2 separate regions of the Homo sapiens genome follow, and region 2 is linked to region 1. Evidence: fine-mapped expression QTL. A gene starts in region 1. The other region holds a variant in brackets. All regions are shown on one strand. Distances are between the middles of the regions.

Region 1 (5,365 bases):
TCTGGATGGAAAAATAGATAAGAATCAGGTTATTTCAATTCTCTAGCTGGCAGTCTGGTGTCTCTAAAGCAGATTCATCCCACTGTTAGCTGCCCAGGTCCAGGCATTTTGGTGGCTCTGAAAGGAAAGCAAGAAAAAAAGAGCCCACAAGGGTGGGGACCTCCAAGGAGAATGCTCCCAGGTCTGTCTGCAAGGAACAGAGAACCAATGAGCACCAATGTTCCCTCAATGCCTGGAACAAAACAGGTGCTTCATAGAGATGTTTTAGAAGAGCGACTGCATGCATGAGAGGGCCTACTGTGTGCAGCCACTCTGTCTTGCACAGTCCTTATCATCACCCTGGGGGTAGGGAGGTGTGCATTCATTTCATTCATTCATTCATTCATTCATTCCACAGTACTTATTGCATCCATACTAGGAGCCTGATGCTGTCGGTGTACACGAGGACACACGCTCAGCATGCGTAAGCAATTTGCGAAGTTGAGGCAGGATGGCAGGTACATGAGGAGTGAGGGCTTGGAGAACCGACAGGCGCCACCTTGGGTCGTGGGTCCACCCCGCTCTCCTCCCTGCGTTGGTTGTGGCCAACCCAGTCTTACCTTTCAGGTCCTAATTTCCTCACCTGTAAATGCAGCAGTCCTAGGACTTATCTCAAAGGGCTTTTTGAAGATTGAATGAGATTATTTGGGGGTGCAGGGAGAGGTTGGGAAGATGCTGGCACATTGCCCAGGCCATGTAGTGAGTCAAGGTTGGAACCCACTTTTGTCTGATCAGAAAAGCAGACCTCGGCCAGGTGTGGTGGTTCACACCTGTAATCCCAGCACTTTGGGAGACCGAGATGGGTGGATTACCTGAGGTCAGGAGTTTGACCTCAAGTCAGGAATTTGACCTGACTGGCCAACATGGTGAAACCCCGTCTCCACAAAAATTAGTTGGGCATAGTGGTGGGCACCTGTAATCCCAGCTACTCAGGAGGCTGAGGCAGGAGAATCACTTGAACCTGGGAGGTGGAGGTTGCAGTGAGCCAGGGTCAGGCCATTGCACTCCAGCCTGGGCAACAAAAGTGAAACTCCGTCTCAAAAAAAAAGAAAAAAGCAGACCTCTCCCTTGCCATGGGCTGCCTCTAGGACCCATCTGCCTCCTTTTATCCCTCTGAGTCTTTGAGGATCTGAGAAGCCCTTCACCTACTTGCCCTGTGGTGACAGGCACTCTGGACTGAGAGTGGGTATGGGATTGCCCCCCAGCAACAGGTGTAGGAAAAGTAGGCCTGACCTGCAGCCATCCACCTGCACCTGGGCGTTCTCACCTGCCAGCTGGCTCACGGCTTCTCTAGCACTGTTCTAGAATCACGGAGGAGTTTGGAAAACATGGGCTCATCACAGACACCTGTGAGAATAGGCTCACCGCCCCTCCCCTGTGAGAATGGGGGCAGGTCACCCCTGGCCTCCTCTCAGGCCCCCGAGGGTGCCCAAATGTGATTACGCACCTGGGTAGCATTCGCTTCCCTGTCCTCCTCCTAAAGAATCGTCTTCTCCCAGTGCCGGAGGAATGAGTCCCCCGTTCTCACCCCGGGGAGCGGTTGCCTCGTGAGTCCAAGGAGAATCCGCCCTTTCGTTTTGCGCAGGTGGAGATCTCGCGGGCCCAGTTCGGAGTCCTGCAAACTGTGAGTGTGCGAGGAGGGCTTGTTTCTGATGAAACCATTTCTGTCCCGTAACAACCCTGAGGGCAGAAACCCTTACAAAAGGAGCCACCGAGAGATTTGCTGTCCGCTTGATACTGGGGCACGGTGGTCCTGGGGGCAGCTTGTCCCGGAAGGGCGCGGGGCGCACTGGCTGGGATCTATAATGGTTGGGGCAGGAGGGTGGGTGGGGAGCCCCTTCTCCATGGCGGCGGGAGGTCTTCGGCGCTGCCCCTGCCCGCGCCTCCCTGCCCACCCCAAGGGCGCCCGACCGTGCGCGCAGGGCAGCGTGGAAAGGGTGGGAAATGCAGGGAGCGCGCCTTGGGGGCTGCCCCATGCTCCCCCCTGTAGCTCCGCGCTCAGGACCCGCGTCCGACTTTGCGTCTCTGGGAACCTTTAAGGCCGGTGAGGGGGGCTGAGCCGCGGCCCCTCGGCTGAGCCAAGCCCTGCCCCACGCAAGGTCCCCAGCCTGGCGCACCCGGCTCCCCAGCGCCGCGCGCCGGCCATGTCCCTTCCCACCCCAGCCCCCCGGGACCCGAGAGCCGTGCGGGGCCGAGCCTCGTGCCCCGAGGCACGCCGAGCCAAGTCACCCCTGCAGCCCGCGGCGCCGGAACTTGGGGGCGCAGTGAGTGGGGGCAGGGCGCCGGGCCGGCGGGCGGTGGCCGTGGCTGGGTGCCGGTTCCTGGCTTTAGAAGTCCTTTCGCATCTTGTTGAATCCGGGGCTGCATTGGCCCTCCGAGCTCTCCGGACTGGCAACGTCGCAGAGACAACAGGTCCTGACCCGGGACAGACCCCACACCCGCGTCCAGGACGTGGGTTTCTTCCCTCTTCCAGGCGAGAGGCCCTCGGACTGGGCGTCGCGGCGAGCCCCCCGTGGTTTCTGTTTGCTTTTGTACGGTCCCCCTTCCCCCCACCACCCTGTCCCGGCCCCACCCGGGCCTTGGTCCCACCGCGAAGGGGCGAGGAGTCCCCGGAAGGGTCGCGATGGCCGGGGAGTCCGGGACCTCGGCTCTGGGTAGGCGCGCCCCGCGACCCAGCGGCGGCGTGGGCGAGGGGCGCTGCGCAAACTACGCGCTCTCGCTGGGGAAACGCCAGCCCAGGCGGGCGGCGGCGGTGAAGGGGATGAGGACCAGGACCCCGTGCCCGGCGGGACTGGCCCCGCACCCCACGCCGCCCCCCTGCGGTGCGCACCGCATCTGCGCCCTAGGCCGAGGCCAGGCTCCGACCCCTCCCCCGCACCGACGTGATTCGGATCGCGCGGTGCTGGCGCCGCCTTCATGCGCCCTGCCTGGCCCCCACCTGGTCCTCTTTCCTTTTCAGGTGGAGGAGATGCCGCTGTCCCGTCGGTCTGGGGACAGCCCAGCTCCCCGGATCCCGGGCTGGAGAGACGCGTCGCGGCCCCGGGGCCTGGTGGCACGAGCAGGAAGGAGGACCCGGCGGCGGGCTCTGCCTGGGCTTGCCTGGGCTTGTTCCGAGCCGGGCTGCTTCTCGGTGACCACGCAGATCGGGGGCATTTGGAGATTTTGCGGGAGTCCTGCAGCCAAGCTCCGGGGCAGGAGAGGCCTGGAAGCCTGCACTACCTGCTCGCCCCGTCCCAGCATGCACCCAGGTAAACGCTTGTGTTTCTCAGTCCGTGCGAAAGTTTGCAAAGAAGGAGGCGGGAACTAGACCAACAACTTTAATAATCATAGTCATAATAATGAAAACCCTGTTCAATTGTGTAGCCTCCGTAAGGGGAAGAATTTCCAAGAAGCAACAAAATGTTCTTTGATTTCATAATCTCTGGGGAGAAAGGATTCCTTTTTTGGGGTTTTGCTCGGCTAGTTCTTTCTTCCCTCCTCTATCTCCAGCGTGGGGCGAGGAAGGCCGACTGGTTCATGGGTGGCAAATGGGGACCCTGGCTCTCTTGCGCTGCTGGCCACGGTGATATTGCAGCAAATGCTCAACCTCCCCAGTTCCTCTCCTCACCTTGAAAGTGGAGGCATTGATACTAGCCACCCATGGTTGCAAAAAACTCGCATGAAAGGGAAAGGAAAAGTGCTTCGGTCACTAAAGTAGCGTTGTCTAAGAGGTCAAGGCTTTGGAAGACTTTTGCTCTAGAAGAGGGGAACGGGAGAGGGGCTTTCAGCCAACCTGGCCCCGAGGTGAACGCGCGCGCCCCCTGCTGGCTGGAGCCCTGTCCAGCCTGTGAGCCGCCAGTGGGGAAGGAGACTGAGGGGAGGTGGTCCCTGGAGTTCCTTGCTCCTGGCCTGGAGCAGCAGGTGCCAGTGCTCCTGAGGCCCCCTCTCTCAGGTTACGTGGATGGGGCCTGTAGCACAGACAGGGCACATGCTTCAGCACCTCCCTGTTTCTGCGTCAGGTGGGGGACATGAGCTAGGCTCTGCAGAAGGTTCCAGAGCCTGGGCCTTCCTGTTGCATCCACACTAGGCTCCTGGAGCCCAGAGGTGGCTGGGATCTCTGCATACATGCATGTGAAACTCTAGCAGATACCAAGTCATGTTAAGGGGGCTAAACGGCCCACTGCAGTTATGTTAGCCAGTTCTGCCTCTGCCCAGTTCTGAGATATCTTTGGGACAAATGGCCACTCCTCTGAGCCCCTGTGTCTTCCTGCATGAGCCACAAATGCTGTGTAGTCATGGCTGAGGAAGAGGGAAGGTACCTGTGCTTGCAAACATTCCTCTTGAAGGACTATCCAGGAGCAGAGGGAGCAGCTGGGGGCAGCATCAGTTGGTACCTGAGCCCATTGGCACCTACTGCCACATGGGGTAGTGGCCTGTCTCCTGAGCTTCCCCAAGCTGGCCAAAACTGGCCAGGACTGCCCTGCTCTCCCCTCCCAATCCAGCTTTCTCTTGGGCCTCCAGGATCCCTTGGCTAGCTGGTGTGGTGGCCATGAGGACTGCACTTTTGCACCCCACCCCTGCCCTTGGCACACATCGCAAATCAATAATGCTAAACCTAGACAGGCCCCCAGGTCTTTCTGATCATAGCATCCATGCAGTGCTTCCCATTGATTGTGTCACCTAATTGCCAACCCAGCCCTACACCTGCCCTTGTAACTGGTCCCTGGGCCGGGGGGTGTAGGAGGATGCAAGGATGAACAAGATGCTGCCCTTGGTTATAGGATACACTACCTCCAGCTAGAGGTTATCAGATCTGTGCATAAGAAAATAACTAGGCGGGACTCATTCATTCATGCGACAAATATTTACAGAGTCCTTGCTATACGCAATGAGTCATTGAGGAGAAACCTACAGAAGGATGAGGGGGACGGCTTTTCAGGCAGAAGGGTTAGTAAGTGCAAAGGCCCTGTGTTTGGTGCATTGGAGAAATTGCAAGAAAGCGGGTGAGACTGAAGATCAACTCGTGATACTTGGTAATGAATATCACATGAAAACAAGGAAGTTTTCTTGTCTAGCTCTGAAATTTGCCTTGGTTGGCAGATCCTTCCTTCCCAGAGAGCACACATCAGTACTGCAGCTACAGCTGTCTGTCTGACATACTTGTAAGAACGAACTGTTTAGTGCAGGCTCTGGGAGGCAGTGCCATGCGGGTCACTGACATACATGGTGCCAATCATTTTTCTCCATTCGTAAGGCACCTCAGGACCCCACTGGGGCCCCAGTGTTCCAGTAAGGATACGGGTTTTGAGTTAAGGACCCGCCTTCCAGCTCCGTCTCTGTCACTAGC
Region 2 (5,365 bases), 19 kb after region 1:
AAAACTCAAACGGGCCAGACGCGGTGGCTCATGCTTGTAATCCCAGCACTTTGGGAGGCTGAGGCTGGAGAAACACTTGAGCCCAGAGGTTTGAGACCAGCTTGAGCAACATAGTAAGACCCTGTCTCTAAAAGAATTGTTTTAAACATTAGCCGGGTTGCCAGGTGCAGTGGCTGACGTCTGTAATCCCAGCACTCTGGGAGGCCGAGATGGGCAGATCACCTGAGGTTAGGAGTTCGAGACTAGCCTGGTCAACATAGTGAAACCCCGTCTCTACTAAAAATACAAAAATTTAGCCAGGTGTGGTGGCGCACACCTGTAATCCCAGCTACTTGGGAGGCTGAGGCAGGAGAATTGCTTGAATCCGGGAGGCAGAGGTTGCAGTGAGCCGAGATCACACCACGGCACTCCAGCCTGAAGGACAGGGTGAGACTCCGTCTCAAAAAAAAAAAAAAAAAAGATTAGCTAGGCGTGGTATGGTGGTGCACACCTGTGGTCCCAGCTACTAGAGGAGCTGAGGGGGTAAGATGGATGGCTGGAGCCGGGGAGGTTGAGGCTCTGGTGAGCTATGATCATGCCACTGTGCTGCAGCTCAGCGGGTGACAAAGCCAGACCCTGTCTCTGAAAAAAAAAAAAAAAAAAAGTCAAGCAATTCATATGTAGATGCAGTTAATGAGCTGGGCCTATTTCTGTCCTGCTTCTTCCCTAAGTCCCCAAACACCTCCCATATCAGCCTTGGGCATGTGTCCTTCCGGTTCACCCACTTCTTGGAGATGCTTTCTGTTGACTATTTGCTGAACTCTGTGGCCGCCCAGAAAATACTCCAGGGAGTGTGATGTGCGTCTATTTCCGGAGCCTCATTTCAGCAGGACTGGTGCCTGGTCAGGGTCTAGACCCTCCACCTCAGGGCCTGCCGTGGAGCAGCCAGAACCCTGGCTTCCCCCAGGTCCCCTAGACAGGCTGCTGTCACCTCTGCCCAGCTCTGGACTCTGGGGTCTCCCCAGATGAATGCACGGCTCCCTCTCCCCCAGGCCCTCATCGGGGACAGGTGGCCTCTGCATGTTCCACTGGTCTGGCAGGTCAAGAACTCAGATTGTTTTAACAGTGGGTGAGGCTTTTATGTATTCAGGTGAGACAACGAATGTGAAAGCTCATTGTCACCTGTAAAGCACCTACCAGTCTGCTGTGACGATGACGGGATGATGAGAACTGTCATCGCTCCTTCTCATTCCTGTGGCTTTACTGTGGGACCTTGAGAGCCAGAGCAGCAGGGGGGAGGTTCTGAGGGTCTAGAAGCCTCGGCAAGGGGCTGTTGCAGCCAGGGGCAGTCAGGCAGGGTCACCCATGCAGGGGCAGCCAAGTGGCTTGCCCAAGCTGGGGTCTATGCCTAGAGGACCCTCCAAAGATGCTGACCCCCTGAAGCCTGGCATCACCCAGGGAGGAGCTGTCACCACCATGGCCCTCTGGGCTACTAAAAACAACCTTTTGCCCAGGACTTGCAAGGAAGAGAGAGAGAGTTCTCGGTGGATGAGAACAGTTTTTCAGTGGCAGTGCTACAGACATTTGGGGCCAGATGATTTTTTGTGGTGGGGGCTGCCCTGTGCACTGTAGGATGTTTAGCGGCATTCCTGGCTTCTACCCACTAGAAGCCAGGAGCACTCCCTACCCTTCAATTGTGATAATCAAAAACGTCTGGGTTTTTTTCTTCTTTTTTTTTTTGAGACAGAGTCTTGCTCTGTCACCCAGGCTGGAGTGCAGTGATGCGATCTTGGCTCACTGCAACCTCCACCTCCCAGTCTCAAGTGATTCTCCTGCTTCAGCCTCCCAAGTAGTTGGGATTACAGGTGTGTGCCACCATGCCCAGTTAAGTTTTGCATTTTTAGTGGAGATAGGGTCTTGTCATGTTGGCCAGGCTGGTCTCGAACTCCTGACCTCAAGTGATCTGCCCGCCTCGGCCTCCCAAAGTGCTGGGATTACAGGCATGAGCCACCACACCCGGCCCCAAAAATGTCTTTAGATATTGCCAAATGTCCCCTGGGTGACAAAATCATCCCCCAAACTGCTGGATTAGAGGCTTTGGAAATGGATTTTCTGTGACCACTGCTTCACCATTGTAAGCTGCCTCTCATTTGGGTGCAGTTTTCTTTGTTCCTTTTCCAAAAAGCTGACCTCATCGGGCCCATTTGTTTGTTTCGTTGACTCACCCAGTCTAACCGCAAGCAGCCTTCCTCCTCTGGGGGATCCCAAATGACTTATCATGGGACTTTGTATGTAAATTTCAAAGATTATTTTCT[A/G]CTAAATCAGAGGCAGAAATCCTCAACTTCTTTTTTAGCAGCCTTGGTAAATACTTCCTTAGAGTGTTTAAGGGGCGTGCCGCACTCCTGCTGGTGGTCTGATTGTGAACACCTTTGCTGTTCAGTTCCCTGAAATCGCCAAATATTTCCCTCTCCTTTGGGTCTCAGCCCAGTGACTAGCGGATGATCTAAGGGCCAGGGCGGTCTGAGTTGGCTAGTGCACCGGGGATTTTCTTAAGGCCTTTGACCCGGGGACTGGTGTGGGAGGAAGGCAAAGGCCTGGTTGTTTATGAGCAAGGAGGAGTCAGGTCCGAGGATGGAGCCCTTCGGGGTCACTGCCCTGGGCCCTGCCCCTCTCCTGCACATCAGGCCCCTTGGACAAGGCCCGTGTGTTTGCAGGACCCTCTTGGGGCAGCAGAGCAAGGGCTGGCTTTGAGAGAGAGCCTCACTTTTTTGTTTTTTTTTTTTTTTTTTTTTTTAAGTAGAGACGGGGTTTCTCCATGTTGGTCAGGCCAGTCTTGAACTCCTCACCTCAGGTGATCTGCCCTCCTCGGCCTCCCAAAGTGCTGGGATTACAGGCGTGAGCGACCGCGCTCGGCCAGGGCTTCACTTTCAAGCTCAGTGCTGCTCTGAGGGGTGGACACAGCCCTGATGTCAGTAGCTGAAGACCTGCCTGGCCACACTCAGCAGCAGTTAGCCTTCTCCTCCCGCGCCCCGTGAACAAGGCTGTACCCTGGGAGGTTGGGCTCTGTCTGAATTCCATCACAGGTCCTCTCCTGGGCCTTGCCCTGCTTTGTTGCCTCCTTAGGAGGATGTCTTCTGGTTTCCTAGGAAGGGCTTTATATCTTAACATCCACCCTGCATTCAAAACCCAAGTTATCAAGACCACAGGGCACCACAACCCTCCTCTTGGCCTTGCGGTTTCTATTCTTCAGTGACTCCCAGAGGTTTGGCTTGATTGGCAGCTTAGAAGCACATGATTGAACTTGAGCAGTGGTTGAAACTCAGAGTCAGATGCCTGACCCGCCCCAATCCCAGGCACAGAGTCTGACCTCACACCCAGGCTGTGCTGTGTACTCAGTTGTTCAGTATCGACTTGAGCTTGACGGGCATCAGGGGCCAGGGAGTGAAAGGGAAGAGAAGCCAAATCTGGCTGCTAAGGGCTCTCAGTCCTGGAGGGCAGGAAAATAGTGGCCTTGCCGCTAGACCTGATGCCACCTGCCCCTCCAGCTGTACCCCCTCAACACCTTGGGTAATACCTCAAGCCCCACGTCCTCTTCCAAGCCAGATAGGACCCCAAGTGCTGGGTGATCCTTATTGAAGGGTAGGGACAGGAGGGACCCGTGGGATTGTGTGTGCTCAGAGCGGAGTTCAGGGGCACCTGAGGGCAAACTGTCTCTTTGCTCCCAGGGCTGTCCTCCGTGCCTTTACCTGTGCTGGGCCCTGGCAGAGCTCTGAGTCTTCTGGATTCCAGCGTCCATAGTAGCTAGTCTGTCCACTGCTGGAGAAAAGCTGCTTTCCCAAAATAGCCACCCAGGGGGAAAGAGCAGCCCTGGAATTTGACCCTGACGATCACCGTGACGGGGCTGCTGGCCCCACCTGGCCTGACCTCCACGACATCACGGAAGGACTGTTGGTTAGTTGTGGGGGCCAGGATTTTTCCTCTGTCCCCCTCCCCTCTTCTTCTTCCCTTTCTTCTTTCTCTCTGCCAGCTTCAGGTTTGAAATTCCAGTGACACCGAGGGAGATGCTCCAGTGCCTGTCCGGCTGGGGGGCAGGTCACATGGTGGGAGCAGAGAGGGGAGGGCACTTGTGCGCCTGCACCTCTTGGCAGGTGAATGCACACCTATGGAGGGGCCTGGGTGCTGGCAGCGAGCCCCGCTCCCTGCGGCTGTGCCAGGCCCAGAGGCGGCAGCGAGCCCAACAGGTCAGACAGGTGGAGCCAGGCTGGGGAAGCTGCAGGACCAGAGCTGACATCCGATCAATCCAAGGTCCTTCTTTGGCCCACAGAGCAGGTAACCCACCCTTTTCTTTCTTTTTTTTTTTTCTTTCTTTCTTTTTTTTTCTGGTTTAATTCACTGACAACTTTAGGGAACATTTACAACCCGAGAAAAAGGCCATTGAGATTGGGGGGCAATCGCGAATTGTTTGGAGAGGGATTTGTGGTGTTTTGTGTGGAGGAAATTTGGCCTCGGCATTAGAAAAGCATTTCTAATTTTCAGGTCTTTGATTCTGAAAGCAGATTTCTTATGGAGCCTGGGTGCTGGGTGGCATATTGGGGAGGCAAAGCCCAGAAGCCATGAGGGTTTTCCTGTGACTGCTGATGGAACACCGTGGGAGGCTGTAGTTTGGTGGCCTGTTTGCCTCCATAAGGAGGGGTTGGGGCAGAGACAGGGTGGTCGGGGGACTGCTCCGCGACAGGACTTGGCTGTATGGGGGAAGCTCTCCCAGTTCCTATCAGAGAAACACGTGGAGGGCTGGACTCCCTCCAAAATTCAAATTTATGCTACAGGCCCTTACTGGGGCTGGATTTTACTTGGAGATTGTTTGGAGTTTTGAAATCACCTCTCCTGGTAAGAAGACTCGGTCTCCTGTGTTCTTGCCCCCTCTGTATCTTGGCCAGTGATGGTTCCCTTAGACAAATTGATGGGGGATTTCTGGCCTGAGGACAGGAAGAAAAGGAGCCCAGGTCTGTTTCAGTGAAGAACAAGCCCAGGACACCCCACCTGAAACTAGGACTAGTTTTGCCCAGTTTGGCATCGTTGAAAACGCATTTGCCCTCTTCCTTGAACCAGGCTGTGCCTTCTTCTATCTGTTTCCCTGCCATGGAACATCACCCAAACATTTTACTGGGAAGGGGAGGGGTAAGAGCAGATACAATGCTTGTCTGAAACCCCCGTTGCATGGCATTCTTTGCAGGGACAGGACAGGGGAGCAGTTTTTGCTGTTACCGAACCCTTTGTGACAGAGATGCTGTTTGTTAAGTGATTTGCTTTTTTACAAAAAAAATTCCAAGGTAATTGATGATGACACAGTTGCTTAGACTATGGAATATACCAGTTAGGATTCCTT

Evidence for each region.
Region 2: its variant is fine-mapped to the expression of MIR34AHG in monocytes after R848 (Quach 2016, PIP 0.95). The same link has a PIP of 0.9 or more in monocytes, monocytes after LPS and monocytes after Pam3CSK4.

Annotation. Positions count from the first base shown.
Region 1 is chr1:9,179,929-9,185,293 of GRCh38, reverse strand. MIR34AHG (MIR34A host gene) reads left to right here and starts at 2,956. Exons shown (of 2, transcript NR_132742.1): 1 at 2,956-3,287. LNCTAM34A (long non coding transcriptional activator of miR34a) reads right to left here and starts at 3,090. Exons shown (of 3, transcript NR_132738.1): 1 at 2,978-3,090; 2 at 1,487-1,661. RefSeq lists enhancers at 958-1,818, 3,019-3,368, 2,680-3,540, 3,479-3,628, 3,541-4,402 and silencers at 2,099-2,208, 2,219-2,308, 2,619-2,978.
Region 2 is chr1:9,160,950-9,166,314 of GRCh38, reverse strand. The region is part of intron 1 of MIR34AHG (MIR34A host gene); the gene reads left to right. Among named protein-coding and RNA genes, the nearest start is that of MIR34A, 12 kb to the right of the region's middle. RefSeq lists silencers at 1,501-1,550, 3,321-3,390, 3,541-3,610 and an enhancer at 2,061-2,390. The variant A/G (reference allele first, on the strand shown) is at 2,295.